Linked DNA regions of Homo sapiens: region 2 is linked to region 1. The links come from fine-mapping of genetic effects on gene expression. Tissue or cell type: whole blood. Region 1 holds a variant in brackets; the other region holds the start of a gene. All regions are shown on one strand. Distances are between the middles of the regions. Region 1 has its middle 31 kb from the start of LIAS. Region 2 holds the start of RPL9 (ribosomal protein L9).

Region 1 (16,444 bases):
TAAAAGTTGCTGGTGACATTTCTTGCCAATTCTCTAACACTGTCTAGGGAAGAGTTCCTAGTCTGTTGTGTTCAAACAGAGTCAACAAAAATTTTTAATTTTTTGTTACAAAAGGGTGAAGTTCAATTTTAAAAATAAATAATAAATATAATAAAAATCTCATGGAACTTCAATGTAAAATAATTAAAATGGCATTTTATTAGCAGTGTATGTTAAAGTTTCAGATTTGTAACATTTACTCTGTAAATAAAAATAGGGAATAAGTAAAATGAAGCAATTTTGATACATATGCAAAATTGGGATTTATGGATAACAGTTGCTGTCTTCAGCCTCAAGAGTCTACTTATTTGTTTTGGTTGCACAGTATTGAGAACAATTCTAATATAGCTAAATAATAGTAAATTTCAGTTAATAGCATAGCTTAAAAAGAAAAAAATAGTAAATAATTTTTAAAAATGGTAAAACACCTCATCTTGGAATGTCTGGATACTTTCCAGTTAAATTTAATACAGAAACTTGAAAGAGGAATAGCAGGAGATGTTTTTGTTTTGTTTTGTTTTGTTTTGTTTTTGAGACAGAGTCTCGCTCTGTCGCCCAGGCTGGAGTGCAGTCATGCGATGTGGGCTCACTGCAACCTCCACCTCAAGTGATTCTCGTGCCTCTGCCTCCTGAATAGCTGGGATTACAGGCACGCACCACCATGCCCAGCTAATTTTTGTGTTTTTAGTAGAGACAGAGTTTCACCATGTTGCCCAGGCTGGTCTGGAACTCCAGGACTCAAGTGATTCACTCATCTCGGCGACTCAAAGTGCTGGTATTACAGGCACGCGCCAACACTCCCAGCTAATTTTTTATATTTTTAGTAGAGATGGGGTTTCACCATGTAGGCCAGGCTGGTCTCAAACTCCTGACCTGAAGTGATCCGCCAGCTTTGGCCTCCCAAAGTGCTGAGATTACAGGCGCGAGCCACTGCGCCCAGCTGGGGCTGCTATTTTTGAATCTGCTTTTAAAGAGCAGGTGGTACCTTTCCCTTCCTCTTTTCCTTTTTCCTTGCTGGCTAGAATGAAAACATGATGCTTAGAGTGGGAGCAGCCATCCTGGACATGAGATGGGAGACTTGTGTCAAGGACAGCAGAGCGACCAGATGAGGAAGGCTTGGGCCTTTTCCAGCCCTCGACCACCTACCTGGACTTTTGTGTGAGAGAGAAATACATTACTATTCTGCTTAACACACTATAATATTGGGTCCCTCTTGGAGCATCCAAGTTTATATGCTAATGCAATTTATAAATTATGTTTATTCTAATGCCCGTAAAATAAATGCCTATTAAAATTAAGAAAGATATATATGCACCTAAAATAATCTCCCATGTTACTAGCATTATCTAGTGAGTAGTCTCTTACATGTCTGTATTCAAGAAAAAGGAAGGGAAGAAGGGAGCAAGCGGTCACTGTATCCAACTTATCCTCTGCTTATACATATTATTTTGCAAGGCAAACACTAATGATATATTTCTTCCTGAGTTTTTGGTCTAAAACTTGAACACACTCCCAGTATGTGGTGATGATAACAGCTAGTTGGGGACCACATGCTATGGAAAGCTAGGATAAGTCTCTAAAAAGTGACTAACAAAGTTCATGCCTTTTTTTTTTTTTTGAGCTAGAATCTCGCTCTGTCACCCAGGCTAGAGGGCAGTGGTGCGATCTCAGCTCACTGCAAGCTCCGCCTCCTGGGTTCACACCATTCTCCTGCCTCAGCCTCCCAAGTAGCTGGGACTACAGGTGCCCGCCACCATTCCTGGCTTATTTTTTTGTGTTTTTAGTAGAGATGGGGTTTCACTGTGTTAGCCAGGATGGTCTTGATCTCCTGACCTCATGATCTGCCCATCTTGGCCTCCCAACATTCTGAGATTACAGGCATGAGCCACAGTGCCTGGCCTTTTTTTTTTTTTTTTTTTTGAGATGGGATCTCACTCTGTTGCCCAGGCTGGAGTGCAGTGGCACAATCTTGGCTCACTGCAGCCTCAACCTCCCTGGCTCAAGTGATCCTCCCACCGCAGCCCCCCAAATAGCTGGGACTACAGGTCCCCACCACCACACCTGCCTATTTTTTTTTTTTTGTCATTTTGGCAGAGATGGGGTCTTGCCATGTTGCCCAGGTGGGTCTCAAACTCCTGAGCTCAAGCAATTCACCCACTGTGGCCTCCCAAACTGCTCAGATTATAGGCATGAGCTACTGCACCTGGCCTTTTTTTGTTGTTTTTTTTAAATAATGTGATAGCTGCAATTGTGCCACTGCACTCCAGCCTGGGCAAGTGAGACTCTATCTCAAAAAAGCACAAAAAATCGGCTGAGTGTGGTAGCTCATGCCTGTAATCCCAGCACTTTGGGAGGCTGAGGCAGGTGTATCACCTGAGGTTAGGACTTTGAGACCAGCCTGGCCAACATGGTGAAATCCCATCTCTACTAAAAATACAAAAATTAGCCAAGCACGGTGGCGGGCACCTGTAATCACAGTTACTCGGGAAGCTGAGGCAGGAGAATTGCTGGAACCAGGAGGCGGGGGTTGTAGTGAGCCGAGATTGCACCATTGCACTCCAGCCTGGGCAACAGGAGTGTGAAGCTCTGTCAAAAACACACACACACACACACACACACACACACACACAATAAATAAATAAAATTTTTAAGTTAAAAAAAAGTGACTACAAAAATAAAAAACACCTCAATGTTTCCTTTTACCATTTTAACCTTTTTTTTGAGACAGGATCTTGCTGCATCACCCAGGCTGGAGTGCAGTGGCACAAATCGGCTCATTGCAACCTTGACCTCCCAAGCTCAAGTGATCCTCCCACCTCAGCCTCCTGAGTAGCTGGGACTACAGACACATGCTACCACTCCTCACTAATTTTTTTTCTATTATTTGTAGAGATCTCACTATGTTGCCCAGACTGGTCTTGAACTCCTGGGCTCAAGTGATCCTCCCTTCTCGACCTCCCATAGTGAGGCAGAAATTAGAGAAAGAAGAAATAAAAACTAAAAGAGAAAGACACGTTTTCCTGTATTAGGTTGTCTCATCCCAAAAAGCAGTAACAGACAGAGCCCAGGTGCAGGCAAGGTCCTGATAACACTATCTAAGAAGTCAGAACCCAAAAGGAATGTGCTCTGGAGGCTCTCCCAGCACTCCCCAACATAAGGATAAGAAAAACAAAATTCCTCTTTTAGCCCTTTACCACCTCCCCATAAATATTTTGCAAGTTTTAGAAGTTCCTGTTTCTCCTTCAATGCAACTGCAAGGTCACAAGCTATGCTAGAGATTACGAGACCTGTCACTGTTTCATTAACTGTCTTTATTCTGCTTCTGTAAGCTTTCTTATAAAAATTGAGCCCTGTCTTTGTTCTGGCCTCAATTTTTTGGATATGAATCCACTGAGCCAGCATACACCTTAATAAAAATCCTCCTGTAACACCCATTTGGTCTCTTTGGTCCTCTGATTCCTACAACATTTTGGTGAGCCAGCCGGGAGAGGAGATGACAGGTTTGCTGTCTCCTTTGCCTGTGGGGCTGGAGCCCCAGACTGGCGGGATACCTGTGACCCCAGGTGTGCCATCAGGAGAACTTCAACCCGGAGGGGAGATCAGCTCTCCTGCGACCCAGTGTCCCTTCGCTGACAGTGCAACGGAACCTAAGGGGTATAGGACGATTCCAGGGTCAGTGCACTTCAGGACCACGGTAAGGTATTGGGGCCCAAGGCAGGACCTGTCCCATAAGGAGGGAAGGGGAGCCTGATCACCTTCCAGGGTGCAACTAGTAGTCCGACACAGGATGAGAGAATGGCTCGTAAATGTTGGGGAAACTTACACCCTAACCAACCCAGGACGCAAGAGTGGCAGGGAAGCAATTGGTCATGTATTTAGGGTAGTAACTGGGGTCGGAGGACAGCCGGGACACCTGGACCAATTCCCCTATATCTACTCATGGCCGCACTCAGGTTATGCAAATGCCTCTCAGGTAAAAAAGAGGACCCCCCTCTATTATAATGAACAAGGTCAAATCCAGGGAAGGGAATGAACCTTCATTTACCAGCCTTTTTCAACCACTGATCTCCTAAACTGGAAGCACCATACCCCTTCCTGCACAGAAAAACCTCAGGCCTTTATAGATCTGGTGCAGTCCATCTTCCTAACACACAATCCAACTTGGCCAGATGTCAAACAGCTCCTCCTGATGCTGTTTAATACTGAGGAGCACCGGAGGATAACTCAGGCAGCCCTCCACTGGCTTGAAGCAAATGTACCAGCAGGCACAATGAACGCTCAGGCATATGCTCAAGGCCACCTCCCAGAAGCAGACCCACACGAGGACCCAAATGATGTAACCCAGTTTCAGCACCTGCAGAGGTACCAAGAGGCAATCCTGCAAAGGCTGAGAAATGGTGGGAAAAAGGCAATCAACATACGGAAAATCTCAGAGATGCTCCAGGGAGCAGATGAAAGCCCTAGCCAGTTTTATGAAAGACTGTATGAGGCATTCCGGCTTTGTACTCCGTTTGACCCTGAAGCAGCTGAAAATCAGCACATGGTGAACACAGCATTTGTAGGACAAGCCCAGGGTGACATCAAACAGAAGCTGCAGAAATTAGAAGGGTTTACAGGCACGAATGCCACCCAGCTTATAGAGGTGGCCACTGAGGTGTATGTTAACCGTGACCAAGAGGCAAAGAAGGAAGCAGAACAGAGGCTTGAGAAAAGGGCCGATCTGTTAGCGGCAGCCCTCGTAGAAAGGGAAACTAGTATTCTAAGAGGATGTGGACGTGGACATGGATGTGGAAGAGGTCAAGTTAGGCAGAGATCTGAGAGCCGGCCGAGGCTAGAGAGAGATCAATGTACATGATGCAAAAAGAAGGGACACTGGAAGGATGAGTGTCCAGAAGGTAATGAGGAGAGTAGTCAGGGCCATGGTATGAAGAGACCATCTGCCAAGGGCTGCCGCACCCTGGGGGAACTAGATACTGATCTAATCAGGCTGGCAGGGGCTGAAGGATATGAAGACTGGGACAGACTGGGCTCCTTCTCTTTAGGCCCCCAGGAACCAATAGTCACATTAGAAGTTGCGGGCCAGCTAATGGACTTTATGGTAGACACTGGGGCTGAACACTCAGTAGTGACCTGACCTATAGGGCCACTAATCACGAACTATACAACTATTGTAGGAGCCACTAGAGTCTCAGAGAAAAGGCCTGTCAGTCAAGGAGGTGTGTTATAGGAGGACGAGAGGTCCAACATGAATTCCTATACCTCCCAAATTGTCCAGTTCCTTTGCTGGGAAGAGACCTACTCCAAAAACTCCAAGTACAGATTGCTTTTGGGCCACAAGGAAGTATGACTTTGAGCCTAACTGAGCTGAAGGCCATGATGTTAACCCTTACTGTCCCACAGACTGAGGACTGGAGACTATATGCAAAAAAGACTCCAGAACCAGGAGTAAATGAAATGTATCGGTTACTTACTAAAATTCCTGGAGTATAGGCTGAAGATAACTCACCAGGGCTGGCTGTAAATCAGGCACTGGTAGTAGTAGGGTCAGAACCAGGAGGCCCCCTTCATTGCTGTGGAGATATAGTAGATAAGGTGTTCTCAAGCCAGAGAGATTTTACAGACCAACCCCTCAGGGCCCCAGATGTTGAATACTTTACAGATAGAAGCAGTTTTGTACTGGAAGGGATCTGACAAGCCGGGTATGCAGTAGTAACATTAAACTCAGCAGCAGAGGTACAGTCTCTGCCCACCGGAACATCAGCCCAAAAGGCAGAACTAATAGCCCTGACAAGAGCCCTTTTGCTAGCAAAAGACAAAAAAAGTCAATGTCTGGCCAGTCACGGTGGCTCACGCCTGTAATCCCAGCACTTTGGGAGGCTGAGGCGGGCGGATCACGAGGTCAGGAGATCGAGACCATCCTGGCTAACACAGTGAAACCCCGTCTCTACTAAAAATACAAAAACTTAGCTGGGTGTTGTGGCGGGCGCCTGTAGTCCCAGCTACTCGGGAGGCTGAGGCAGGAGAATGGTGTGAACCTGGGAGGCGGAGGTTGCAGTGAGCCGAGATGGCGCCACTGCACTCCAGCCTGGGTGACACAGCGAGCCCCGTCTAAAAAAAAAAAAAATAGTCAATGTCTACATGGATTATAAGTATGCCTTTGCTACATTACATGTTCATGGAGCTATATATAAAGAAAGAAGACTTTTAACTGTAGGGGGCAAAGAAAGTACAAAGAAGAAATTCTACAGCTCTTAAATGCTATATGGGCTGCTCCAAAGAAAGTAGCCGTTATGCATTGCAAAGGGCACCAAAAGGCAGGAACACTAGAGGCCAAAGGAAACAGAAAAGCAGACAAGGAGGCAAAACGGTCAGCAATGACTACCCCGCACTGTAAAGAGGAGATCCTAGCTTTGCCTCTCCTCCCAGAGCCTCCCCTGCCAGAGGTCCCAAATTATTCTCCAAATGAAACGGGCCTAATTTGCCCAAGAAGCCAGAAATTACATTGAAGGAGGATGGTGGAAATTCTCAGATGGGAGGCTAGCCATTCCTGAAATGGTAGCCCCTAAGTTTGTAAAAACAATTCCATCAAATAACTCATATTTTTTAAAAATGGCATTAGAGACACTACTTAGACTCCATTTCTGTGTGCCACGACTCACTGCCATTGCCCGAGCCGTTTGTGAACAATGTCTAACTTGTGTTCAGAACAACCCTCTGCAGGGGCCTACCCGGCCCCCAGGAATTCAAGAAATAGAGGCCACACCTTGTGAAAACTTGCTTCTGGACTTTACCGAGCTGCCCCAAGCAGGAGGCTATCAGTACATGTTGGTGTTCATCTGCACCTTCTCAGGGTAGGTTGAGGCTTTCCCCACCCGGACAGAAGAGGCGCAGGAAGTAACTAAAGTACCGATAAGAGACATTATTCCCAGATTTAGACTGCTTCTAACTCTAGTGTCAGACAATGGACTGGCATTTGTAGCTGAAATAGTTCAAGATCTAACACGGCTGTTAAAAATAAAATGGAAATTACACAAGGCCTACCAGTCACAAAGCTCAGGAAAAGTGGAGTGCATGAACTGGATGGACACTCAAGCAGCTACTGAAGAAATATTGCCAGGAGACTTATCTGAGATTAGATCAAGTCTTGCCCATGGTCCTCCTCTGAGTCAGGCGCACCCCCACTAAACAAACTGAGTATTCGCCCTGTGAGATTTTGTTTAGCCGGCCATCCCTAATCATAGGTCAAGTTAGAGGTGATCTCCGTGAGCTAGGAAAACTAACTTTGAGAAAGCAAATGCAGGCTTAGGGATAGCCATGTAAACAGTTCATAGCTGGGTACATGAAAGAATACCTGTTAAGTCTAACAGACCCAGCACACCGATTTAAACCTGGGGACTTTCTTTAGGTTAAAAAATTGGAATCCAACCACTTTGGGACCCATAAGAGATAGGCCCCATACTGTAATCTTGTCCACTCCCACTGCTGTTAAAGTTGCGAGAATCGTGCCTAAGATCCACCACAGTCTGCTGAAACTGGCGGCCCAAGACCGGTAGATCAGCCACCAGGACCCAGACCACCCGACCCGACTCAGCCTGCGACAAAACTAAGCTGCCAGTAGAGACAGCAGACCTGCTCTAGTCACTCCAGAAGCTGACTAGTCTATGCACCGGCTGAAGCTTGAAGAATCATCATCAGGGAAGTAAATGTAGCCAGAGATCTTAAGCCCAATAACTTTCCGTATAATATTAATTGTTTTGCTGGCCGGGCGCGGTGGCTCATGCCTGTAATCCCAGCACTTTGGGAGGCTGAGGCGGGCGGATCAAGACGTCAGGAGATCGAGACCATCCTAGCTAACATGGTGAAACCCCATCTCTACTAAAAATACAAACAATTAGCCGGGTGTGGTGGCGGGCGCCTGTAATCCCAGCTACTCTGGAGGCTGAGACAGGAGAATGGTGTGAACCTGGGAGGTGGAGCTTGCAGTGAGCCGAGATCGCGCCACTGCACTCCAGCCTGGGCGAGACAGTGAGACTCCGTCTCAGAAAAAAGAGAAAGACCCATAGAGGAATCCCTCACTGCATGCATACCACATGGTTAAGAAACACAATAGATAAGACTTTATTGTACTATACGTATTATGAGTGAACAGGAAGCCATCTGGGGACTTGCATGCACAACCAGACAACCTATTCAGTCTGTGACCCAAGAGATGGCCGGCCTTCTATGTGCTATAATCCCAAGCTCATACCTGAAACCCAAACCTGAAAACCAAAAGAGTCCCCAGACTCCCTCTTCAGAGGTTGGTTTTCGTCTTTTGGTGGATTTAAAACATGAACAGAAGTGGTGCTGGCTACGTTAAGTGGTTGCTTAATACTCCCTTGCCTCTTACCCCTCCTTGTCAGAAGCATTCAATCGACTTAGTAGACAAAACAACCACCACTCGACTAATGGCTCTAAGTACCAGCCATTGCCAACTGAAGAAAATTATGCTGCCATGAAGAATTAAATAATAGTGATGCTTTCTATTAAACTTCATTTATAAAAAGCATCAAAGGGGGGAATGAGGCAGAAATTAGAGAAAGAAGAAATAAAAACTAAAAGAGAAAAGCAAGTTTTCCTGTATTAGGCTGTCTCATCCCAAAAAGCAGTAACAGACACAGCCCAGGCCAAGACAAGGTCCCGATAACACTATGTAAGAAGTCAGGACCTAGTAGTGCTAGAATTATAGTCATGAACCACCATGCCCAGCCCACTTTAACCATGTTGAAGTGTACGATTCAGTGGCATTAAGTACATTCCCAATGTTATGTAACCATCAGTGTCTCTATTTTGACAAGTGAGTGAAGCCCAAGCTCAGTGTAGAGTTCAAGGCCTTCCACAATTTGCCCTTGGTCTAACCTTCCAGTCTTCTCCAGCTATTCCTCCTCCTACTCCCTTCAACTCCAGAAAAAAAGACAGCTTGCTTTCCCTAAAAGCAGCCTGAATCTTCCTGCTTCCATCTTTTTCTTCCCATTGCTTCTGCCATGGACCTGCCAATTCAAACCCACCCTTCCCCTACTAAGATCATGTCTCTTTATTAAGATCCACCTCAAATGCCACCGGGAAGGCTTCCTGTTTTCCTCAGCTGGAGTAATCTTTACCTCTGTGTCCACACAGCATTTTTTAAAATCACTTATGGCTATTTTCTTGGTTGGGCCAGTTATTTGTGTACCTGCCTCTCTTAAGATCTCTCTCATTCATCTGTGCCCTCTGTTAGCATCTCACAGTATCTGCATTATAGTAGGTGCACAGACACCTAATTTGAAATATTATTCTTTTTTGAGATGGAGTTTTGCTCTTGTCCAGGCTGGAGTGCAGTGGCACGATCTTGGCTCACTGTAACCTCCACCTCCCGGGTTCAAGCGATTCTCTTGCCTCAGCCTCCCAAGAAGCTGGGATTACAGGCACATGCCACCACGCCTGGCTAATTTTTGTATTTTTAATAGAGACATGGTTTCACCATGTAGGCCAGGATGGTCTCGAACTCCTGACCTCAGGTCATCCACCCATCTCAGCCTCCCAAAGTGCTGGGATTACAGGCATGAGCCACTGCGCCCGGCCCTAATTTGACATATTCTAAGTAGAGTTACTTAAAGGTGAGTACAAATGAGCTTACTTTACACATTACAATTAGACCTTACCTTCACCAGCTGAGTTGTCTTACTGAACCCTCCTCCATGTCCCCTATCCCATACCTCCTGTAGAACCTCAGACCCTTTCTGGGTGTCCCCAGGAGGTTGGAGGCCATGTGTTCACTTCCATTTCAGCTGCTGTTCAAGCAATTTTCCTTTAGCAACTTTCTGATTACTTACTTATTTATTTATTTTTTGAGATAGAGTCTTGCTCTGTTGCCCAGGCTGGAGTGCAGTGGCGTGATCTCAGCTCACTGCAACCTCTGCCTCCCAGTTCAAAC[G/A]ATTCTCCTGCCTCAGCCTCCCTGAGTAACTGGGATTGCAAGTGCCTGCCACCACCCCCAGCTAATTTTTTTTTTTTTTTTGAAATGGAGTCTTGCTTTGTTGCCCAGGCTGGAGTGCAATGGCGCAATCTCACTTCAACCTCCGCCTCCCTGGTTCAAGCCATTCTCCTGCCTCAGCCTCCTGAGTATCTGGGATTACAAGCACCTGCCACCATGCCCAGCTAATTTTTGTATATTTAGTAGAGACAGGTTTTTACCCTGTTGGCCCAGCTGGTCTCAAACTCCTGACCTCAGGTGATCCTCCCATCTTGGCCTCCCAAAGTGCTGGGATTACAGGCGTGAGCTACCGCACCTGGCCAATTTTTGTATTTTTTTAATAGAGACAGGGTTTCACCATATTGGCCAGGCTGGTCTGGAACTCCTGACATCTAGTGATCCTCCAGCCTCAGACTTCCATACTACTGAGATTACAGGTGTGACCACCGCACCCAGTGCAACCTTCTGATTCTTTCCTTGAGATGCTATTTCATTATTCTGTCTAAAGCCATTGGTGCTTGTTCTTCTCTTTTCTTCTTCTTCTTTTTTTTTTTTTTCTGAGACAGTCTCACTCTGTTGCCCAGGCTGGAGTGCAAGGGTGCGATCTTGGCTCACTGCAGCCTCTGCGTCCTGGGTTCAAGTGATTCTCCCTCCTCAGCCTCCCAAGTAGCTGGGATTACAGGCGCCCGCCACCATGCCCAGCTAATTTTTGTTTTTGCTTTTGTTTCAAGATTGAGTTTCGCACTTGCTGCCCAGGCTGGAGTGCAATGGCGCAATATCGGCTCACTGCAACCTCTGCCTCCCGAGTTCAAGTGATTTTCCTGCCTCAGCCTCCCAAGTAGCTGGGATTACAGGTGCCCACTACTATGCCCAGATAATTTTTGTATTTTTAGTAGAGATGGGATTTCACCATGTAGGCCAGGCTGTTCTCGAACTCCCGACCTCAGGTGATCCCCCTGCCTCGGCCTCCCAAAGTGCTGGGATTATAGGCGTGAGCCACTGTGACTGGCCGTTCTTCTTAATAATGATGATAATACAATACCTCTAAAAGTAGGGTATTTTCAGCTTCAAATAAGAAATGTCCTATTCAATCGTGTCATTAAGGAGGACATTTATGTCACCAAACAGGAAGTAGTCTTCAAGGTTCATTGATTCAGGGACTCAACAAAGTAATCGAGGATCTAGGTTTTTCCTTCTATTATCTCTGCCATCTTTGGTGTTGGCTTCACCCCAGTCTGGTAGGATGGTGGCTGTGGCTGTCACAACCAAATACCTGTTATCCAGGGATCATATCCAGCCACAACATCCAGAAGGAGAAGAGAGGGCAACTTTCCTTGTAGCTGTTTCAGGAATGTGTCCCAGGAGCCTTACTAACAAACTACCCCTCAATTCTCAATCGCCAGCATTGGTCACAAGGTTGTTTCTGAAGCAATCATTGGCAAGAAAAATCATTGGCAAGGGAAATTTGTTAAACAAAAGTAAGACGGACCATCCTTGGATCTGAAGGTGAGGTAAGCAGGTGGGGATGAACATCTGAACACTGGGGCTCTGTTAGGAAGGAAGAAAGGGGAATGGATCCTCTGGATGGGCAACCAACAAAGTCCCCCTAACATTTCTGGAGTGTTTCCTGTGTACCACGCCCTGTGCCAAGTGTTTTACACTCTTATCTAATGTAATCCTCACAAACAGCCTTCTGAAGTGTACTGTATTATCCTTGCTTTATATATGAAGAAATTGACTTAAGAAAGTTGACTTATCTGGGCCAAGGTCCCATTTCTACTAAGTGGTAAAAGCAAGATTCAAACTTGATCAAAAACTGGAAGCTACCATTGTTATAATAATTGATTCAGACAGGAATCATTAGTAGATGCTAAAACTAGTGGATGAAAGTTTAAAGGAGTAACAATCTTTTTGTTTGTTTGTTTTGTTTTGTTTTGTTTTTGAGATAGAGTCTCGCTCTGTCACCCAGGCTGGAGTGCAGTGGCACAATCTCTGCTCACTGCAGCCTCAGCCCCCGGGTTCAAGCAATTCTCTTGCCTCAGCCTCCTGAGTAGCTGTGATTACAGGTGCCAGCCACCACGCCCAGCTAATTTTTGTATTTGTAGTAGAGATGGGGTTTCACCATGTTGGCCAGGCTGATCTCGAACTCTCCTGACCTCAGGTGATCCACCCACCTTGGCCTCCCAAAGTGCTGGGATTACAGGCATGAGCCACGGCTCCTGGCCTGTTTTGTTTTTTAGACACAGTTTCACTCTGTCGCCCAGGCTGGAGTACAGTGGTGAGATCTCAGCTCACTGCAACCTCCACCTCAAACAATCCTCCCATCTCAGCCTCCCAAATAGTTGGGACCACAGGCATGCACCACCACACCTGGCTAATTTTTGTATTTTTGGTAGAGATGGGGTTTTGCCAGATTGCTTAAGCAATCTTCCTGCCTTGACTTCCCAAAGTGCTGGGATTACAGGTGTTAGCCACTGCACCTGCCCTATTTCCTTATTTTTTGGGAAATAAAACTCCAATAGCCAACCTCCAAGATGGCTCCCAGTGATTATCACCTCCTGATATCCATGTCTCTTCAGACAGTGAATAGAGCTATCTGGTTAAACAATAGGATATTATAGAAATGATGGGGTATGATTTCTGAGGCTAGATAATAAAAGACATTGGAGGTTCTGTCTTGTCCTCTATTGGTTTTTTCACTCTTGAAGATGCCAACTTGCTATGCTGTGTCATGAGGATATTCAAGCAGTGCTATGAGGAGATCCAGTTGGCAAAGAACTGAGGCCTCCTGTCAACCGCCAGCACTAACTTGATAGTCATATGAGCAAGCCATCTTGGAAGACAATCTTCCAGCCCCAGTCAAGCCTTTTGATGACCAAAGCCCTGGTTGACATTTTGATTACAACCAGACTTTGACCCAGAACCATTTGGCTAAACTGTTCCTGAATTCCTGACCCACAGAAACTGAGATAACCCTGAAGTATTTAGGGGAAAAGGGAATCATGTCTCCAACTTACTCTCTTTTTTTTTTTTTTTTTTTTTTTTTATTGAGACAGAGTCTTGCTCTGTCACCCAGGCTAGAATGCAGTGGCACAATCTCAGCTCACTGCAACCTCTGCCTCCCGGGTTTGAATGATTCTCCTGCCTCAGTTTCCCAAGTAGCTGGGACTACAGGTGCGCACAACCATGCCCGGCTAATTTTTTGTATTTTTAGTAAAGATGAGGTTTTACCATGTTGTCCAGGTTGGTCTCAAACTCCTGACCTTAGCCTCCTAAAGTGCTGGGATTACAGGGATGAGCCACCGCACCTGGCCTTGCAACTTAATCTCAAATCATTCAGGAAAAAAATTTATATAAATATAAATTTTATGTGTGATGTATACAGGAAGGATAAAACAAAGCAAATATAATATTAATATTTAGTGAATAAGAAGGGTATACAGCATTTTTGTACCATTCTTTCAACTTTTCTGTAAATCTAAAATTATGTCAGAATTTAGGGTTTTCTTTTTTTAAAAACTAGCAACCTTTGATCTAGATCTACCCTTCACAGATATTTTGGTGTGTGTAGTGTAAAAATTTGTTTTTAAACATCGTGCCAACACTTATAAATTGAGAGATTTTATATAAAAATCCAGATTTTTACAAAAATTAGTCGGGCATGGTGGTGGGTGCCTGTAATCTCAGCTACTCAGGAGGCTGAAGCAGGAGAATAGCTTGAACCTGCGAGGTGAAGGTTGCAGTGAGCCAAGATTGCACCACTGCACTCCAGCCTGGGCAACAGAGATTCCGTCTCAAAAAACAAAAAACACCACACCACCAAATCCAGATTTTTAGCTTTTTCTTGAGAAATAGGAAGATAAGGCACCAGTGACAAGTACTGCATAACAAAGTATTGGCTTAAGTCTGCATGACAAGTATTGGCCTGATGCCTGGTTAATTCTTTGCATTTGAGAAGAATGACTTTTACCTGGGCACCTTTATGTATCCAGAGAAGCAGAATGACTAATATTAAAAGCTGGAGAGAAAAGTCACATAGTCTGTCCTGAATTCTGGTTCTGCCACTTATTAAGGTGTGACCCTGAGCAAGCTGCTAAATCTTCCGAGCCTTCTGCCTGTAGTCTGAATCACAGGATCAGAACTTACCTCAAAAGACTTAAATGAGTCCTAGAATAACATGGGGAAGTAAAAAATGAAATGAAATAAAGACTTATGTGAGGAACAGATGAGAAAATGCACCTAAAGGACTTTGCATAGTGCCTGTCCAAAATGTTCAGTGTTAATTACTGTCCTTCTAGTGATTCCAGAGCCTACACGTGGTTCTGGTGCAGTGGGACCAGCTTGTTATGGTGCTAACAGGAGTGCTCATTGCCTGCCAGTCACTGTGCCAAGAAGATCTTTGTGTAAACATTCATCTCATGTAATCTTTATAACAATTCTTCGAGTTGGAGATGGATTATCTGTTTTACAGATGGGAAAAATAAGGCTTTCAGGTAGCTTAGCCAAGAAGTCTTAAGTGGAATTGTAGGAGAGAAAATTGTAGGAGAGAGATTTTGTTTATCCTTTTGTATCTATGTGAATGTCTTTTTACCATGTCCATATATTATTTTCAATTTTTTTTTTTTTTTTTTTTGAGAAGGAGTTTCACTCTTGTTGCCCAGGTCGGAGTGCAATGGCATGATCTCGGCTCACCGTAATCTCCACCTCCCGGGTTCAAGCGATTCTCCTGTCTCAGCCCCCTGAGTAGCTGGGATTACAGGCATGCACCACTACACCCGGCTAATTTTGTATTTATAGTAGAGACGAGGTTTCTCCATGTTGGTCAGGCTGGTCTCGAACTCTTGACCTCAGGTGATCCACCCACCTCGGCCTCCCAAAGTGCTGGGATTACAGGCGTGAGCCACAGCGCCCGGCCTATTATTTTCAATTTTAAGTACAGTTAGTAATCTTACCAATATTCCTCTGCCCTACCAAAAATATATTAGCTAATAAAAAATTGAAACTTTTCCTGGTGGTAGGGATCAGGTATAAAAATTTAAATATATATATTTTTAAAAACTGAAAGTTTGTATGATTAAAAAAAACAACAATTGTCTTTAACTGGTTGAGGAGAGAAAAAAAGACTAACCACCTTCTTTCAACTTTTCACATGAAAGTCTCAAATTGCTGTTAAGTTACATGCCTAATTACTGAGTTTTTCCTCCCATTTCAAACAGCAAGTTTATCTGGCTCTATGAGCCCTCTTTTGCCCATTTTCCTCCATTTACCAGTAACTTTTTTCTTTTTTTTTTGAGACAGGGTCTCACTCTGTCATCCAGACTAGAGTGCAGTGGTACAATCTCGGCTCACTGCAGCCTTGACATCCTGGGCTCAAGTGATCTTCCCACCTCAGCCTCCCAGTTAGCTTGGACTACTGGCATGCACCACCACTCATGGCTAATTTTTTGTATTTTTTTAGAGACGAGGTTTCGCCATGTTGCCCAGGCTGGTCTTGAACTCCTGAGCTCAAGCATCCACCCACCTTGACCTCTCAAAGTGCCGGGATTACAGGCATGAGCCACCACACCCGGCCAGTAATTATATCTTACAATAATTGTTTACTTATCAGTTCCAGGCATTGAAACATCTTGCAATTTAAAACAAGTACCTATTTCTTTCTTTTCTTTTCTTTTCTTTTTTTTCTGAGACAGTTTCGCTCTTGTTGCCCAGGCTGGAGTGCAATGGCGCCATCTTGGCTCACTGCAACCTCTGCTCCCAGGTTCAAGTGATTCTCCTGCCTCAGCCTCCTGAGTAGCTGGGATTACAGGCGCGTGCCACTACGCCTGGCTAGTTTTTTTGTATTTTTAGTAGAGACGGGGTTTCACCATGTTGGCCAGGCTGGTCTCGAACTCCTAACCTCAGGTGATCCCCCACCTCAGCCTCCCAAAGTACAAGCATGAGCCACTGCACCCGGCACAAGTACCTATTTCTTTTTTTCTTCTTTTTGGAGCTCTTTCAAAGGATTTATTTGCTACAGAATTGCTTCAGTCCACCAATGAGATGAACTCAGGACTTCTTTGTTCAAAAGGATTTTGCTTATTGCTGTGTTTTTACAAATTCGGCAACATCCAAATAGCAATTCTTAGGCTGGGCACAGTGGCTTGAACCCCAGGAGGCAGAGGTTGCAGTGAGCCGAGATGGTGCCACTGCACTCCAGCCTGGCCAATAAAACAAGACTCTGTCTCAAAAAAAAAGAACAACAACAACAACAAAAGCAATTTTTTGCCAGCATTTGGCATATCTAGACAAGAGTAGAAAAAGTTTGAATCTATAGCATTAGATGTCTAAAAATAGAAAAAAAAACCATTTAAAAATTTAAAAATTCCTCATTTGGACAGGACAAGTGCCTAATTCTATCTGCTTTAGCATACATCTTCA
Region 2 (16,444 bases), 30 kb before region 1:
TTTAAGCTTTTCTGAGATGTGTTGTGAAAAATCTAACGTGTTTATCGTATATTCAATGTAACAACCTGGAGAATCACAACTATATTTAAAGAGCCTCTGGAAAATGAGGCCAGTACAGTGTGACTACATGTTTAATTTTCAATGTAATTTATTCCAAATAAACTGGTTCATGCTGACCACTTGTATTCAACTAACAACCTGGTCAATTTTAAGAACTGTTGAATGTGAATGGGTTTGGCATTGTAAATGGGCTCTGCCCCAAGACTGCCTCCCCTGAATCCCTTTCTGCCTAGTTGTGCACCAACTTGGTATGTTACTTCTGGGTATATTTTCTCAAAAAATGTGGCTCAGGTGTGGTGGCTCACACCTGTAACCCCAGCACTTCGGGAGGCCAAGGTGGGCGGATTGCTTGATTCCAGGAGTTTGAGACCAGCTTGGGCAACGTGGCAAAACCCTCTCTACAAAAAACTAGCCAGGCATGGTGGCACGTATTTGTGGTCCCAGCTACACAGAAGGCTGAGGTGGGAGGACTGCTTGAGCCTGGGAGACAGAGGTTGCAGTGAACCAAGATCACGCCACTGCACTCCAACCTGGGTGACAGAGACCCCGTCTCAAAAATATGTGGACACCTACATCTAAAAATTGCAAAAATAGTGCACAAGTGCTTATCCATAGTAGACACAGAAGACAATAATTAAGTTTTCCCTGGAGAACTAGGCTCATTTGTTATACCCAAGTTATTAAAAAAAAAAAATCACTGTTTAGCTACAGTCTCTTAAGTTACCTTATGAAGGTCAGACCCAGCATGCCAGTCCATTTCATGCTCAAAGAAATCTCATTTACTCCCACAGCAGCTACTCCCCATAAGCTGATCCTCTCATGAGCATCTCCACCCCACTAGAATATTGCCACTTGGAAATTTCTCCCACAAGCCTCATACTGTTTTGAAATCCTGTCAATACCTTCCCAAAATCTCTCTCTTCCAGTCCCACTGCTATTACTGAGTTCCTTGGCAATCCAGGAAACAGCTACATGCCATTGTTCTGGTAGCTGGAATACACCAGAGTACAAAATTACCTCCTTGTGAAGGTTACATCCTAGCAGAAAAAAACACATCATCAATACACAACCAATTGTAAATATTAAAATTACAAATGCTATTGACAAAAACAAGTGGAGAAGGGTAACGAGACAGTAGGACAAGCTTAAGGAGCCGGTCTACTATTTTTAATACGGTGGTCAAGGCAGGATTCACTGAATAGACCTGAAGGTAAGTGAAATTAGCCACACAGCTCAGCTGAGAGCATTCCAAAGGGAAAACGACAACTTAAATGCTTAATGACAGAGTGCTTGGTATAGAGGATTAGCCAGGTCAATTCAGCTATAGCGCAGAAGTCAGAAAAATTGAGTTAAAAACGGCTGCAGGTACAATGGGGAGGCTATTTTAAAAAGAAAAAAGGGAAAAAAAACCTGTTGCAGGATTTGAAACAGTGCTATAATCCATTTCAAAATCAGTACCCTGGCTGATGCTGAAAATAGACAGGAGAGGAAGATGACCAGTTGACTGTCACAATAATCCAGGTGAACTTCGCAGGTCTTTGTTTCATTTTCTACATTGTAAAAAATTTGTATCTAATGGACCCATATTTCCCAACCTTTCGAGGATGTGATCTTACTTCACGTTGATCCCATTCATCGCCTACAACCCCATCCGTTATTTCTGAGCAAATCCGAGATTTATGATTTCCTCCAAATTTCTTAAAAACCTAACCAAATAGTCATCAAACAACAAGACTCCTTAATGTATGTTCAATTAGTGTACTTGAATCCAGATCTAAGACGTATAGGGCATGGTGACCCATGCCTGTAGTTCCAGCCCTCTGGGAGGCCAAAGAGGAACACTTAAGGCCAGGAGTTCAAGACCAGCCTGGGAAACATGAGACCCCATCCATACTTTAAAAAAAAAAAAAAAAAGATGTGACGGTGCCTGCCTGTAGTCCTTGCTACTAAGGAGGCTGAAGCAGGTAGGATTATTGCTTGAGTCCAGTAGGTTGAAGTTACAGAGCTATGACTATGGCACTGTATTCCAGCCTGGGCAACTGAGTAAGACATTGTAAGATCCAAGATAACATATATGCCAACTGATCGTGACCTCTGTCCTTATATTTACTTTTTCTGATAAAGTACCTGACCATACCTTACAATGAAGGTACTTAGTACGTTTTCCTGACGCATTTGATCAAGGATGAATGTTAAATTTTGCCTTAGAAATTGCAGTTTCCATCAAATGAGATGTAGAATTCACAAAGGTTTGGGGGTCACCATGTTGACCTAAGTCTAGTTATGGTGGCCTTGTACCATATTTAAAGTATAACACATGGAATTAAGAGATTATGGAAGGGTTATCAATTTTTAAAAACAAGTTCTAGGGTATGGAAGTAAATGGCTGAGGTAAAGGACAAGATTATTGAGACCATGAACCAAACCAACTACACCTTCTAATTCTAACTGATGCTGTATCACTCTGTTCTACTCCTCAGCTGTTTCTCCACCAGTGACTAAGACAACATTTGCCTTACCAAATATTCAAATTCATGCCTCAGCAAATTTAGACACTTTCAGGGTATTCCTAAAGTTCTATATGCAATGATGAATGGCCTCATGTTTGCCTGTCACTGGTACAATATTCCTCTTGCCTAAAATATATCCTTGCTATTCCTTCAAGAACCAGATTAAAGCTCCTTGTTCCACGAGGGAAAAAAACTAGCTAAAAAGGATAACCGGTTTAAGAAGAAGGTCCAAATCAATAGGTCTTTTATTGCATCATTTAAATATCACAAGTAGGTCTTAAGTGTCATCTGGCATCTTCTTTCTGTAGCCAGGTAACTGTAAAAAAAGAAAAAAAATCTGTAAATCCCCATCAATACACTTGCCCAGGAAAGTACTAATCTTTTTTCTGTACTATTCTAAATAATCTAAAACATACCTCAAGACTATGACTTACTGATTCATAGTAAACTATACGTAGTAAAATGCATGCCAATTCCATCTTTTATTCTGTCAAATTTACTGTGTTCCAGAATGCTTAACTCTCCATTTTCTATTACTACAAATTCAGTTTAAGTCTTTTAGTAAATTAAGAGCTTCATTCAACTAGAGCAGTAATAAAACTTAAGACACTGTAAGAACTTACCTCTTAGATCTTATTCATCAGCCTGCTGAACAGTTCCTTTTTCAGAGACATAGATACCATCCAAAAATTTCCTGATATCCTTGTTTTTAACTGTTGTGGCTTGCTGAATCAAAGCCGCTATAGGAGTGAAGATAAAGCAATTAATACATCAGCCTAACCCATCTTAAAAAGAAAGTATTTCATTATGTGCTGTACTTAAAATTTCAGAATGTGACCTTTTTATTTTCACAATTTAAAAAGCTAATCAAATAAAAATTAGCAAAATACTGTATTTTAAACAAGATTTAGACAAAATCTTGTAGGCATAGTTAGACATAGTAAACATACAAACCTGAATTTGAAACAAGCTCAATGTCATTTCCTTCAAGGATTAATTCATCTTTCTGGGCTTGAGATACTGAACAAGCAACACCTAAAAGGGGAGAGGGCATTTGCACAGCATCAAATCTGTGTAAAAAATATTTAAATTGCAGAGGCACTAATTTATTCCATGTAAAACTCCATGCACCAAAAGAACCTTTTCTTAAGATTTTGAGGCCGGGCACAGTGGCTCACGCCTGTAATCTCAGCACTTTGGGAGGCCGAGGCGGGCGGATCATGAGGTCAGGAGATCGAAACCATCCTGGCTAACACTGTGAAACCCATCTCTAGTAAAAATACAAAAAATTAGCTGGGTGTGGTGGTACGTGCCTATACTCCCAGCTACTCAGGAGGCTGAGGCAGGAGAATCGCTTGAAGCCAGGAGGCAGGGGTTTATTTTTAACATAAGGGTTTTCATTAAATGTTGCTGACCATAGCTAGTATCAGAGTATTTCTGGACAGCCATTATTTTGATACTAAGAATCTCCCTTCTTCCCACCCCTCCCCACCCCAATGGAATCAAAATGCATCAAGAGGCCGAGCCAGGTATGTTTTAAGAGGCCAAGGGGGAAGAACTGCTTGAGCCTGCAAGTTCAAGACCAGCCTGGACAACATAGCAAGACCCTGCCTCTACAAAAAACTTAAAAATTAGCTGGGGCCAGGCACCATAGCATTCCTTGAAATCAGCCTGGGCAACGTGGCGAAACAGTCTCTACAAAAAATCAAAAATCAGCTGGATGTGGTGGCAGGCACCTGCAGTGCCAGCTAGTGGGGAGGCTGAGGTGGGAGAAACACCTGAGCACGAAGGTGGAGGATGCAATGAGCTGAGATCACGCCACCGTACTCCAGCCTGGGCAACAGAGCAAGACCCTGCCTCAAATAAAAAGCACTAAGCTTTAAATTTTTTTTAAAGCTACTGTGTTTACTATGTATTACGCATGCATTGTTGTTTTTCAACTTTAACTCATTTAATCAAAGATGTTTGCAATTTTAAGCTGCAGAGAGATGACATGCCCAAGGTGGACAGTGAGAGCTGAAATTTACGCTAGGCTATTAACCACTACTCATGTAGTTTTCTCTTTAGATTTTAAAGGTTCTTACCACGAAGAAATAAATGGAGTGATGGATGTGTTAATTAGCCTGATTTAGTCATTCCACAGAATATGCATGTGTTGAAACATCACATTGTGCTCCATAAATACACACCATTATATACACCTTTTGTAAATTTAAAGTCTTTTTAAAAGATTTCATTTGCCAAGTTAAATACAACCACCACTGCAAGCTACTCCAATGTATCAACTTTCTGAAATTGTAATCGACATAATGATATAAACCCTTAAGTAGCACCAACAGTTTAAGTGTAATCAAGAGATAATTCTAAAACAAATCTGGTTTTACTCAGCACAAACACAAAACAACAGCCAACTAAAGTATGGAAGTTGGGAGTGGAAAAGGAGGAAAAAAATATGAAGGAAAAATTTCTTAATTCTGTCTGAGGGTATGCACATACCTGGTCTCATCCGAACCCTGCGGATATATTTTTCACCCAAGAAATTTCGGATTTCAACAAGAGACCCATTCTCCTGGATAACAACGTTGATGGGGAAGTGAGCATACACAGACCTCATCTTGTAACGGAAGCCCTATGTTAAATAAATAAGCAAGCTATTAGCAATGCTGAGGAATATTTTTAATAGTTTTAAAATTTTCTAAGATGCTTATACTTATTTTAAAACGTAACACTCACTGCCAAGATTTTCTAATAACTGTCACCTGAACCAAGCCTTATAAACATTGTTCTGTCTATTCAGTGGACTGTAAAGCTCCTTGCGGAGGCTTTATTTCACTAGCTCTTATGCCCTCAATGAACAATGCTGCCTTCTTTTAATGAGAACCCCAAAGCCCTGATCTTAGACATTAGACTAACATTTACTGAGTTACTAAGGTACAGCACATGGCAGGAATTGAGACCACCAAGCCAAAGGCAGGCCCCCTGCCTTCAAGGAACTTAAGGCTAAGAGCAAGGGTAGATGGGGGAATCTTAACAGATTTATAATAGATGTACAGGGTGCCATTATCAGGTGCATTCTAGAAGGTATAATGCAAAGAAAACCATTTCAGCATGAACTTTTTATCTTGAGGGGAGAGACGGTGGGTTGGAAAGAATAATGACATACATTATGGCAGCAGACAGAAAACTCAGAAACTACATCTTTTTCTATCCCAACAAGGGGTCCTGATGGTGAGATGTGACTACCAACTAGTACTGCAACTGTAGATTTCCTATCTTAAAGAATTCGGAAGGTATGAAAATTCATCATTAGCCTACTTTTTAAAAGTTGTACCCATCTAGCCATGCATGGTGGCTCATGCCTGCAATCCCAGTACTATGGGAGGCCAAGGTGGGAGGATCACTTGAGCTCAGCCTGGACAAAATAGCGAGACCCCAGCCTTGATTAAAAAAAAAAAAAACCCAACAACAGAAAAAAACAAACATGTTGTACCCATCTGGTCTTTGCTCTCAGCTCTATCGCTTAAAGACCCACAGATGCCTATTTTTGCCAAGTTCTTGCGTATTACACCAAATAAAATACATGACCCATTCTCTGAAAGAGACACTTACGCTGTATAAAGCACAGGTTTGAGAAACCTCCCTTTCCAAAACAAGGAAGTCTGATACATCTGCTTACCAGTGTAACACCCTTGATCATGTTCTGTACATGACTACAAATAGTCCGAACGGTAGCCAGTTCCTTTCTGTTACCCCACCATTTGTCAACCCGGAGCTGTAACAGAACAAAAAATGTATTCTTTCCAGAAATATGCAGGCTTAAAAGACAACAGACCACTTACCGAATTACTTTAAGATTCTAGAATTAACCCTTATCAAAGCACATGGTTTTCAACTGGAAAAATCCAACCACCTATAAAACCTCCCAACAGTTAAGCTTTGTAGAAGTTGCAACAAACTTCCCTTCTGGAAAATTAAATCATCAGGTTTAAATGACCTACTGCCGGTTCCTGTGATTTTTACAAAGCAATCACTAGGAAAATAAACCAAACTTCTAACACCATTAAGACGTGTCACTGATGACCACTATTACATTTGAGCTTTATATAATTGGCTGTGTTCAGAATCTGGTTTTTCAATTTCACTGAACAGGCTGGTATTCTGGACAGCAACATTTAAAGCTGAAGCACTGAACCTTAATTCGAAAATTGTTAAAGCAACCAAATGTGATGCTGTTATAAACCACCTTCCAACGAGCAACTGAATTATCAGAAGAAAAACCCTCACCCTCTTTTTTTTCTTTCCAAGAAGGCTGAGTTCTACATTGATGTGATTGAAGTCCCTCCGCAGGGTTCCTCTGGGGCCCTTCACGATAACTGTGCGTCCCTTCAGAGTAATGTCGACTAGAAGAGAGAACACACTCGTCAGGCCACACAACGCTTGGAACGTGCAGTAAAGATGTAAGTAAAAGACATCAAGTCTCATACCATTTTCTGGAATGTCGACAGTCTGATTGCTGAGAATAGTCTTCATTCTGAAACACAAACACTGGGGGTGAGGCCGACGCAAGGCCCGTTTTTCCACCAAACTACGCCGCACAGAGCTCCACTCCTACTGGAGACTGCCAGGCGGAAGTTCCAGACAAGATGTCGGAGGACGGGAGACCGACAGCGGGCCCCAGTGTGTCCCAGCCTGGAAGGAGCAGCCCCAAAGCGAGAATTACGAGGCCCAGCAGTCGAACTCCCACTCAGCCCAACCCTGGAAGTCCTATGCGGGCGGTGCCATCCCGGCAAGACTGAGGGGCGGGAATAGGCCAAAAAGCCCACAACAGGATTCGCATCTGGCGCCGCCAGGCTCATATGGCGCTTGCCGAGCTGGGGGACAAACAGGACAAGGTTCCGAGAGTGGGAGCCGCGCCGCAGCCTTTCCCAGAGCAGATGGTTTCAGATTCCCAGTACCCCCACGAGCACAGAAACATCCTTACCTCGCAGTAGACGCAGCAAAGAAAGAACGTCTGTCGTCATTACGTACTTGTATCGCGTAAGGGGCCTGCGTATTGCGTCATGAGTGCGCGACGCACGTAAGGCTAAAGCAGCCAATCGTGGAGCAGCTTGGCTGCTTGTCATAAATGGAGCGACGTAATTTCGACCTGTCCTTTCCCGGGAGTTAGCGATCCCTCAACCCCTGCACTGCGCTAGTCCTAAAGAGGAAATGTCTCTACGCTGCGGGGATGCAGCCCGCACCCTGGGGCCCCGGGTGAGCGGCGGGGCGAACGGGTTTGGGCGTGGGGTGGGGGGATCCTATCCCTTCAGAGCGCCCATGCCCAATAATAAAGGCCAGTGCATTTACTGAACATTTACTACTAGCCAACGGCAGTTTTAAACGTTTTTCGTGTAATCTCATGTAATTATCCCGCCAGCCCCATGATATAGAGTCTCTGGCATCAGTTTGTTTGCAAGTCTCTCTGGGCCAGCACCGAGGACTTATTTTCTGCTTAGAGTGGTTTGTACCCTATATTTATGGAGCACTGCAGTGAGCACCCCACATAGCTATTCTGTCTTGGACTCTTACTGTGTGTGAGACACCACTCTAGCCGCAGAGAACACAAACCTGTCCGCTAGGCTTCAGCGGCAGACATTGAGAAGTGCAGTAGCAATCGTGCAACACCCTAACAGGCACTCTTTGAGTTGTCGAAGGTTCTTTTGAGATACATGTGCAGACTCGTGGATTTTGTAGTGTTTTGGCTATCTCATACACGTTTGTGTTCAGATGTAAAAGCCGAATACCATGATTTCTTATGTTCTTGACTGCCACGTTCAAACACAGAAACAATGTAACCTAGAAAGTAAAAACGTTCATCCTGGCCAACATGGTGAAACCCCGCCTCTATTAAAAATACAAAAATTAGCTGAGCGTGGTGGCGTGCGCCTGTAGTCCCAGCTACTCGCCAGGCTGAGGCAGGAGAATCGCTTGAACCCGCGAGGCGGAGGTTGCAGTGAGCCGAGATCGCGCAACTGCACTCCAACCTGGGCGACAGAGCGAGACTCCATCTCAAAAAAAAAAAAAGAAAAAGAAAGTAAAAACGTTAGGCTTGGTTTTAACCTTCCAGTTGTCTGAAACTAATTGGGCATTATTAACCTACGTTTCAACAATTATTCAAAGCTCGAGAGATTTATTGCACACTTCACTTTAAACGCCCCTGATTCAAGTCAGGACCAGAACAGTTTTAAACTGTGGCACCTTCTTCAGTTATTGCAGTTCAATCTTGTTGAAAGACAAACATCTAGTTCCTGGTAGGTGGAGTACATGAAAGTGTGATATATGTTAGTTCCAGAGATTTTCGGGCCGGGTGCGGTGGCTTACGCCTGTAATCCCAGCACTTTGGGAGGCCGAGGCAGGTGGATCACCTGAGGTCAGGAGATCGAGACCATCCTGGCTAACATGGTGAAACCCTGTCTCTACTAAAAATACAAAAAAATTAGCCGGGCGTGGTGGCGGGCGCCTGTAGTCCCAGCTACTCAGGAGGCTGAGGCAGGAGAATGGCGTGAACCCGGGAGGCGGAGCTTGCGGTGAGCCAAGATTGCGCCACTGCACTCCAGCCTGGGCAACAGAGCAAGACTCCGTCTCAAAAAAAAAAAAAAAAAAACAGATTTCCAAATCTATTCTAAACTCAGTAGTAAACAGTCAACTCTTACTCTCTTTTAGGTTTGGTTCCTTCAGTCATCTTTTATATTCTAATGCCCTAGAATACTAGAGCTCCTAGTTTGACATAATTTCTGAATCACTTTTTTGGCTTTACCCTTCCGTTTAGGTGTTATGATGGGTTAAAACTAAATTATTACGGACTCCACTAAATAAACGTCATAATTAACTCTTTCTTTAGGTATTTGGGAGATATTTTTGCAGCCCAGTCAGACCGTTAAGCTCCTTGCCAGATAAAAAAAAGGAACTCCTACAGAATGGACCAGACCTTCAAGATTTTGTATCTGGTGATCTTGCAGACAGGAGCACCTGGGATGAATATAAAGGAAACCTAAAACGCCAGAAAGGAGAAAGGTAATTGAAAATTTGAGATAATTTTAACGTCCCGTTCCTTTATTGTGCATTATTTTCAGATATAACCAAGCCCTAGAATCTGTTTTTAATATCAGACTTGTTAAATTTAGCTAAAAATCATTAGAAAGATGTGATAACAGAACTAGATAGAACAAGTAAGCAGATGAAATTTTTGGAATCTTTCTCTTTTCTCTTGCCCTTACTATGTTACACTGCCATCTCCCCATTTTCTACCCAGCATCCAACTTCTTCAGAGTAAAGATTACTGCTTTGCTACTAGTCTGTTAGATCTGGGTTAGTAGCTGTTGATGATCTAACTTGTGCTTCTCCTAGTCAATTTACATGTGACCTATGGATACCTTGCCTTAATTTAAAAGAATGATGGAATTTTATGTAGAAGGTAGATTGAGTTGAAAGATAACTTAATCCTGCTCCTTCTATATCACAAGTGGATGGAAGTCATGGAGAACCAAGGATACACAGTCTCCAGTCCAAATTTTAGATCTTTTTTCCATTGAGTAACCACTATAAAATCTAGAATGTAGAGCAGACAGTGCACAGTTGTGATCTTTCCTCAGTCTAAACAAGTAGAGTACTTTTTGGCAGTATCATTCATGAGGGATGAGATATTTGAAAACTTGCTCATTCTCTTATTAGAATAGTGTAACTCTGCCTTTGCAAAAAAGGTAGACGTGAGTATAGCGCCCTGTTACACTCCATTATTGGTGTTTTCTTTTTGTTTGTTTGTTCTTGAGACAGTCTTGCTCTGTCACCCAGGTTGGAGTGCAGTGGCACAATCTTGGCTCACTGCAAGCTCCGCCTCCTGGGTTCAAGGGATTCTTCTGCCTAAGCCTCCCAAGTAGCTGGGACTACAGGCGCCTGCCACCACGCCCGGCTAATTTTTGTATTTTTAGTAGAGACAGGGCTTCACCATATTGGCCAAACTAGTCTCGAACTCCTGACCTTGTGATCCGCCCACCTCGGCCTCCCAAAGTGCTGGGATTACAGGCATGAGCCACCACATCCGGCCATTATTGGTGTTTTCTAAAGTGGTTTGAGCAAGGCTAAATTTGATTCTGTGTTCTTACTCCTATGACAGAAATTATAAGAGTTATTCTAAGGTTATAGAAAAAATTATTAACTAGGAATTGTAATAGAAGAAATTAACTTCAAAGCTGTGTAATTATTTGGCAGCATATTTGTTAATAGATAGTTATGTTTGGCTTTCCTTAGGTTAAGACTACCTCCATGGCTAAAGACAGAGATTCCCATGGGGAAAAATTACAATAAACTGAAAAATACTTTGCGGAATTTAAATCTCCATACAGTAAGTTGTCAAAGTGTAAACTATCCCTCTTCACCAAAAGCCATGTTTCTACGTTTATATAACTTAAAAATTATTAATAAATATATAAATAATAGCAAAGAAAGTAAATATGTTAAGTGATACATTACTACCAGGAATGGAAATATATTTAGAATCATTTTTCCGGCAAACAAAGAGATTTTTTGCCCTACGAGTTTGGAAACAAGGCTTTGTTTGTTTTATATTGCAAATTAGATATATGATTTGTTGGAAAGAATATAAAATTAAATATGAAGGTATGTCACATACGCAATGCCATATATAAACCATACTCCTTTACCTTTAACTCTTCAGTATATAATCTTTCAGACTTTTTTATTTGCACATATGAAGTATATACATTCGTAAAGTTTTTAATTTAAAAATTGGATTTTGGCCAGGTGCGGTGGCTCACACCTATAATTCCAGTACTTCGGAAGGCCGAGGTGGGAGGATCACCTGAGGTCAGGAGTTCAAGACCAGCCTGGCCAACATGGTGAAACCCCGTCTCTAATAAAATACAAAAAAAATTAGCTGGGCGTGGTGGCGTGAGCCTGTAGTCCCAGCTACTTGGAAGTCTGAGGCTGGAGAATCACTTGAGCTTGGGAGGTGGAGATTGCAGTGAGCTGAGATGGCACCACTGCACTCCAGCCTGGACGACAGTGAGACTCCATCTTAAAAAATAAAAATTCAAGTCTGTCCATTCTTACATAATTATGTAAGGGAGTACACCTCTATAGGACATGCTCACTACACTCTAATCTTAATATAGAGTTGGGCAGTTTAACAGCCTTTTTTTTTTTTTTTTGAAGACAGGGCATTGCTCTGTTGTCTATGCTGGAGTGCTGTGGTACAATTGCCTTGACCTCCCAGGCTCAAGTGATCCTCTCTCCTCAGCCTTCTGAGTAGCTGGGAGTATAGGTGCACATTACCACGCCTGACTAACTTTGATTTTTTGTAGAGGCAGGATTTCACTATGTTGCCCAGACTGGTTCCAGACTCCTGGGCTCAAGCAATCCTCCTGCCTCAGCTTCCCAAAGTGCTGGAATTACAGGCATGAGCCAGCGCACTTGGTCTTAACAGCATTTTTGAATAGTGAATGTCTTCAAAAATATGTTGTAAACAATGAGAAGTTTAAAATGTCTAATCACAGTCACCAACTGTTTAGTTGGTGGATATTGTCAACCTAATGGTGTTCCATTTCCTTTTGCATACAGGTATGTGAGGAAGCTCGATGTCCCAATATTGGAGAGTGTTGGGGAGGTGGAGAATATGCCACCGCCACAGCCACGATCATGGTAGGGCCAGCCTCAACCTCTATGGCTTTAGTCTAGAAACTGAAAGGGACTATTTTGTGTCTTCCTCCTAAAAATGTGCATTATGAATCTCTGGTCAGATTTTTCATTACATTTGCATTTATGAAAAATATTAAGAAAAAACCTGATGGAATAATCCAACCTGTTGTAATCTCACCCTTCTCTGAATAAATCTATTATTGGTTCTTTCATTTATGTGATAGTTAATCACGTGCTGCCTTGAGATACCTCTCCTATCAATGTTTGGAAACATTATTCATGATTGCTTAGCTTTTTATGTGTTTTCTGTTTAACATATTCAACAAGAAGGAGCTGTGCTTTCTGTTTTTACATCCATAGAGACCTGTACATTGATCTGTCATATATTTTATGTCTTTTAAAATCATCTTTTTTTATTATTGAATAGATATAAAAGTATCTTCATAGGCCGGGTGCAGTGGCTCATGCCTGTAAGCTCAGCATTTTGGGAGGCCAAGGCAGGCAGATCATTTGAACCCAGGAGTTCAAGACCAGCTGGGCAACATGGTAAAACCTTGTCCATACAAAAAAAAAGTTTTTAAAAATTAGCTGGGCATGGTGGCACTTGCCTGTATACCCAACTTCTGAGGAGGCTGAGGTGGGAGGATCACTTGAGCCCAACAGGTTGAGGCTGCAGTAAGACATGATCATGCCACTGCGTCCCAGCCTAGACTACAGAGCAAGACCCTGTTTCAAAAAAAAAAAAAAAAAGTATCTTATAAACTGTGTAAGTTATAAAGAATAACACAACAGACACCCTCATACCTCCAGTTTGAGATTAAAACGTTAGCATTATCTTTGAATACCCCTCTGTACCCCCTAAACTGTATATTAGAATCCCATTTTTCAGTTGTGTTTCTATTTTGTTTTAAGAAATGGGGGTCTCACTCTGTCACCCAGGCTGGAGTGCAGTGGCACAGTCATAGCTCACTGCAGCCTCGAACTCCTAGGCTCAAGTAATCCTCCTATCTCAGCCTCCCTAAATACCTGAGGCTACAGGTACATGCCACTACACTAGCTAATTTTTAGAGACAGGGTCTCACCGTGTTGCCCATGCTGGTCTCAGACTCTTAACAATCCTCTCACCTCAGCTTCCAGAGTAGCTGGGATTACAGGAGCAAGCCACTGCACCCTGCTTTGTTTTTAAATTTAAATTTTGCGTCCTTTCCTGATCCCATCCCCTTTCCCCTGAACACTATTCTTATTGCTGAGTTTATTATTTCCCTTTTTAGTTTTATCACATATATTTATGTTCCTTGACTATCATTTAGTTTTGAATGTTTCAAATTTCTTATAAACAGAACCAAACTGTATGCATTCTTTGCAACTTGCTTTATTCTCTCAACATTATGTCCTTAAGGGTCATCTGTCTATTTCATTTAAATTGTAACATTTCTATTCTAGTTGATGGGTGACACATGTACAAGAGGTTGCAGATTTTGTTCTGTTAAGACTGCAAGAAATCCTCCTCCACTGGATGCCAGTGAGCCCTACAATACTGCAAAGGCAATTGCAGAATGGGGTCTGGATTATGTTGTCCTGACATCTGTGGATCGAGATGGTTAGTGTGTCATCATGGCCTCTACCAGAAACTGGCTCTAAATGATGACATCATCCTGAGCAGTGGATTCTTTTGTTTCTAGATATGCCTGATGGGGGAGCTGAACACATTGCAAAGACCGTATCATATTTAAAGGAAAGGTACTTATTTTTGCATTTGTGTAATTTAAGGACCTTTTTGGACCCATATGAGTTAAGTTTAAGTTCATTACCTTGAAACAGGGATTATTCACTTTTTGAGGAGTTTCATAGTTTTCTGATAATTCACTGGAAATTATGTACACATTTCTTTGGAAAAAGCATATTTGTATGTACAGATACATATTTGCAGAGAATTTTAGGGGCTCAGTGACATGAACTTACCCATAGACCTTTAGCCCATAGAATCCCTCCCTCATATTAGAGCATTAGTCTAAACTTTGAATAATTTTCTTTAAAAAGTATAAACCTGGTCTTCTTAGTAATGATTTTTTTTTTTTTTTGAGATGGAGTCTCGCTCTTTTGCCCAGGCTAGAGTGCATGGCACCATCTCACTGCAACCTCTGCCTCCCAGTTCAAGCATTTATCCTGCCTCAGCCTCCCGAGTAGCTGGGATTAGAGGCCCACGCCACCAAGCTCAGCTAATTTTTGTACTTTTAGTAGAGATAGGGTTTGACCATGTTGGCCAGGATGGTCTCAAACTCCTGACCTCAATTGATCCACCCACCTGAGCCTACCAAAGTGCGGGATTACAGGCCTGAGCCATCACGCCCGGCCTGTTTTTTTGGGTTTGTTTTGTTTTTTCTTTTAAGAGACAGTCTTGCTTTGTCATCTAGGCTGGAGTGCAGCGGCCTGATGATCATAGCTCACTGCAGCCTCAAACTTCTGGGCTCAAGCAATCCTTCTGCCTCAGCCTCCCAAGTAGCTGGGACTACAGGTACACTACCACGCTTGGCTAATGTTTTTACATTTTTTTTTAGAGACGGAATCTTGCTATGTTCCCCAGGCTGGTCTCAAACTCCTGACCTCAACCAATACTCCTGCCTCGCCCTCCCAAAGTGCTGAGATTATTCTAATTTTCTACAGCTCAGTACTAGTTTGGCACCTAAGCGCACTTAGTAAATTTTTTAAATGATTCCCTAGTATTTTCTATTTTCTATTTACTATAGTTCATTTTTGAAAAATCTGTTTGCAATCCACTAGGTTTATTTTACAAGCTTCAGTGGGTCTCAGCTTTCAGTTTAAAAAAGCAATAGAACCAAGCACAGTGGTTCACGCCTGTAGTTCTAGCACTTTGGGAGGCCAAAGCAGGAAGATTGCTTGAGGACAGGCGTTCAAGACCAGCCTGGGCAACATAGGGAGATGCTGTCTCTACAAAAAATAAATTAAAAAAAAAAAATAGCTGGATGTGGTAGCATGTGCCCATAGTCCTACCTGCTTGGGAGGCTGAGGCAGAAGGATTGCGTGAGCCCAGGAGTTTAAAGTTACAGTGAGCTATGATGCACTGGGCAACAGAGCAAGACCCTGTTTTTATTTAAAAAAAAAAAATTATAGGATATGTTCTTTGAATATCTCTTATATTCATGATAAGGGTGTACATGTGGTCTTTTCTACATCTGTTCTTTCAGGGAACAACTCCAGACACTTTGCCAGTGGGTTTGTGAAAAAATGTGTCAGCTGTTTCAGTCGTTTTTGCTGGTGTCAAAGGGAACAGCTCTGTGACCCAGTTCACATTATAATACTTGGATGAATAGATATAGCCACAATATAAATAGGAAGATTAATGTTTAGCTCGTACTTCGTTTAACAAAGCTCATGACTCAGCAACCCAGAAAATAGTTTTTAAAACCCGTAGCACTTGTGAAATATTTGCCTAGAGGAAGGGAGGAGAGCATGATTTGATGACTTTTTAAAGAAATCAAAATTAAAGCAATCAAATAATACTCACATTTATATAAGAAATACTTCAATTTACTTTCCAATGAGTAAAGTTTTATATTTAATGTTTTAATATTTCATATTTTAGTTTCTTGCAATTATTTACTTTTTCTAAAACCTACTTAAATTAGGTTTAAAAGTCTACTATATATAATTTGAAATTTTATTCAGTTTGCCTACAGGTGTGTTTTAACCACTGTGTACATAGTATTTAACGGTCTGCTTTTTTTTTTTTAATAATGGTTCATGTATGAACATCTGTATGTTCATACTTTTCTTGACAAAGTTCTAAAGGTTACTGTGTTGAAGCATACTGAACGATTACTGATAATTTCTATTTTGAGGAACAGGTATGTCAGTTCTTTCTCTCTGTTTGATAATTCTCTCTTTTCCCCTTAGGAATCCAAAAATCCTTGTGGAGTGTCTTACTCCTGATTTTCGAGGTGATCTCAAAGCAATAGAAAAAGTTGCTCTGTCAGGATTAGATGTGTATGCACATAATGTAGAAACAGTCCCGGAATTACAGAGGTGAATACGTGTACAAAGTAATGTTGGGAAGTTAGGCGGGTCAAAATATGCCATATATTCTTGCCTTTTCCAGGGCTGAACTTTGCCATTGACTTTTACAAAGTAAACTCTATTCTTTTTTGTTTTTTAGGCAAACT

The links.
Region 2: it holds the start of RPL9, and the variant in region 1 is fine-mapped to the expression of RPL9 in whole blood (INTERVAL, PIP 0.92).

The regions. Positions count from the first base shown.
Region 1 is chr4:39,481,637-39,498,080 of GRCh38, forward strand. It overlaps the pseudogene WDR5CP. Among named protein-coding and RNA genes, the nearest start is that of LIAS, 31 kb to the left of the region's middle. The variant G/A (reference allele first, on the strand shown) is at 9,992.
Region 2 is chr4:39,451,340-39,467,783 of GRCh38, forward strand. It overlaps RPL9 (ribosomal protein L9), which reads right to left and starts at 7,583. Exons shown (of 8, transcript NM_000661.5): 1 at 7,552-7,583; 2 at 7,055-7,101; 3 at 6,855-6,970; 4 at 6,247-6,342; 5 at 5,067-5,199; 6 at 3,525-3,605; 7 at 3,194-3,310; 8 at 2,785-2,886. The coding sequence starts at 7,100. The coding sequence ends at 3,204. It overlaps LIAS (lipoic acid synthetase), which reads left to right and starts at 7,717. Exons shown (of 11, transcript NM_006859.4): 1 at 7,717-7,823; 2 at 9,451-9,623; 3 at 10,857-10,950; 4 at 12,186-12,266; 5 at 13,707-13,863; 6 at 13,946-14,003; 7 at 16,179-16,307. The coding sequence starts at 7,779. It overlaps KLB (klotho beta), which reads left to right. Exons shown (of 5, transcript NM_175737.4): 5 at 1-194. RefSeq lists enhancers at 6,584-7,334, 7,530-7,824, 8,195-8,244 and a silencer at 7,765-7,814.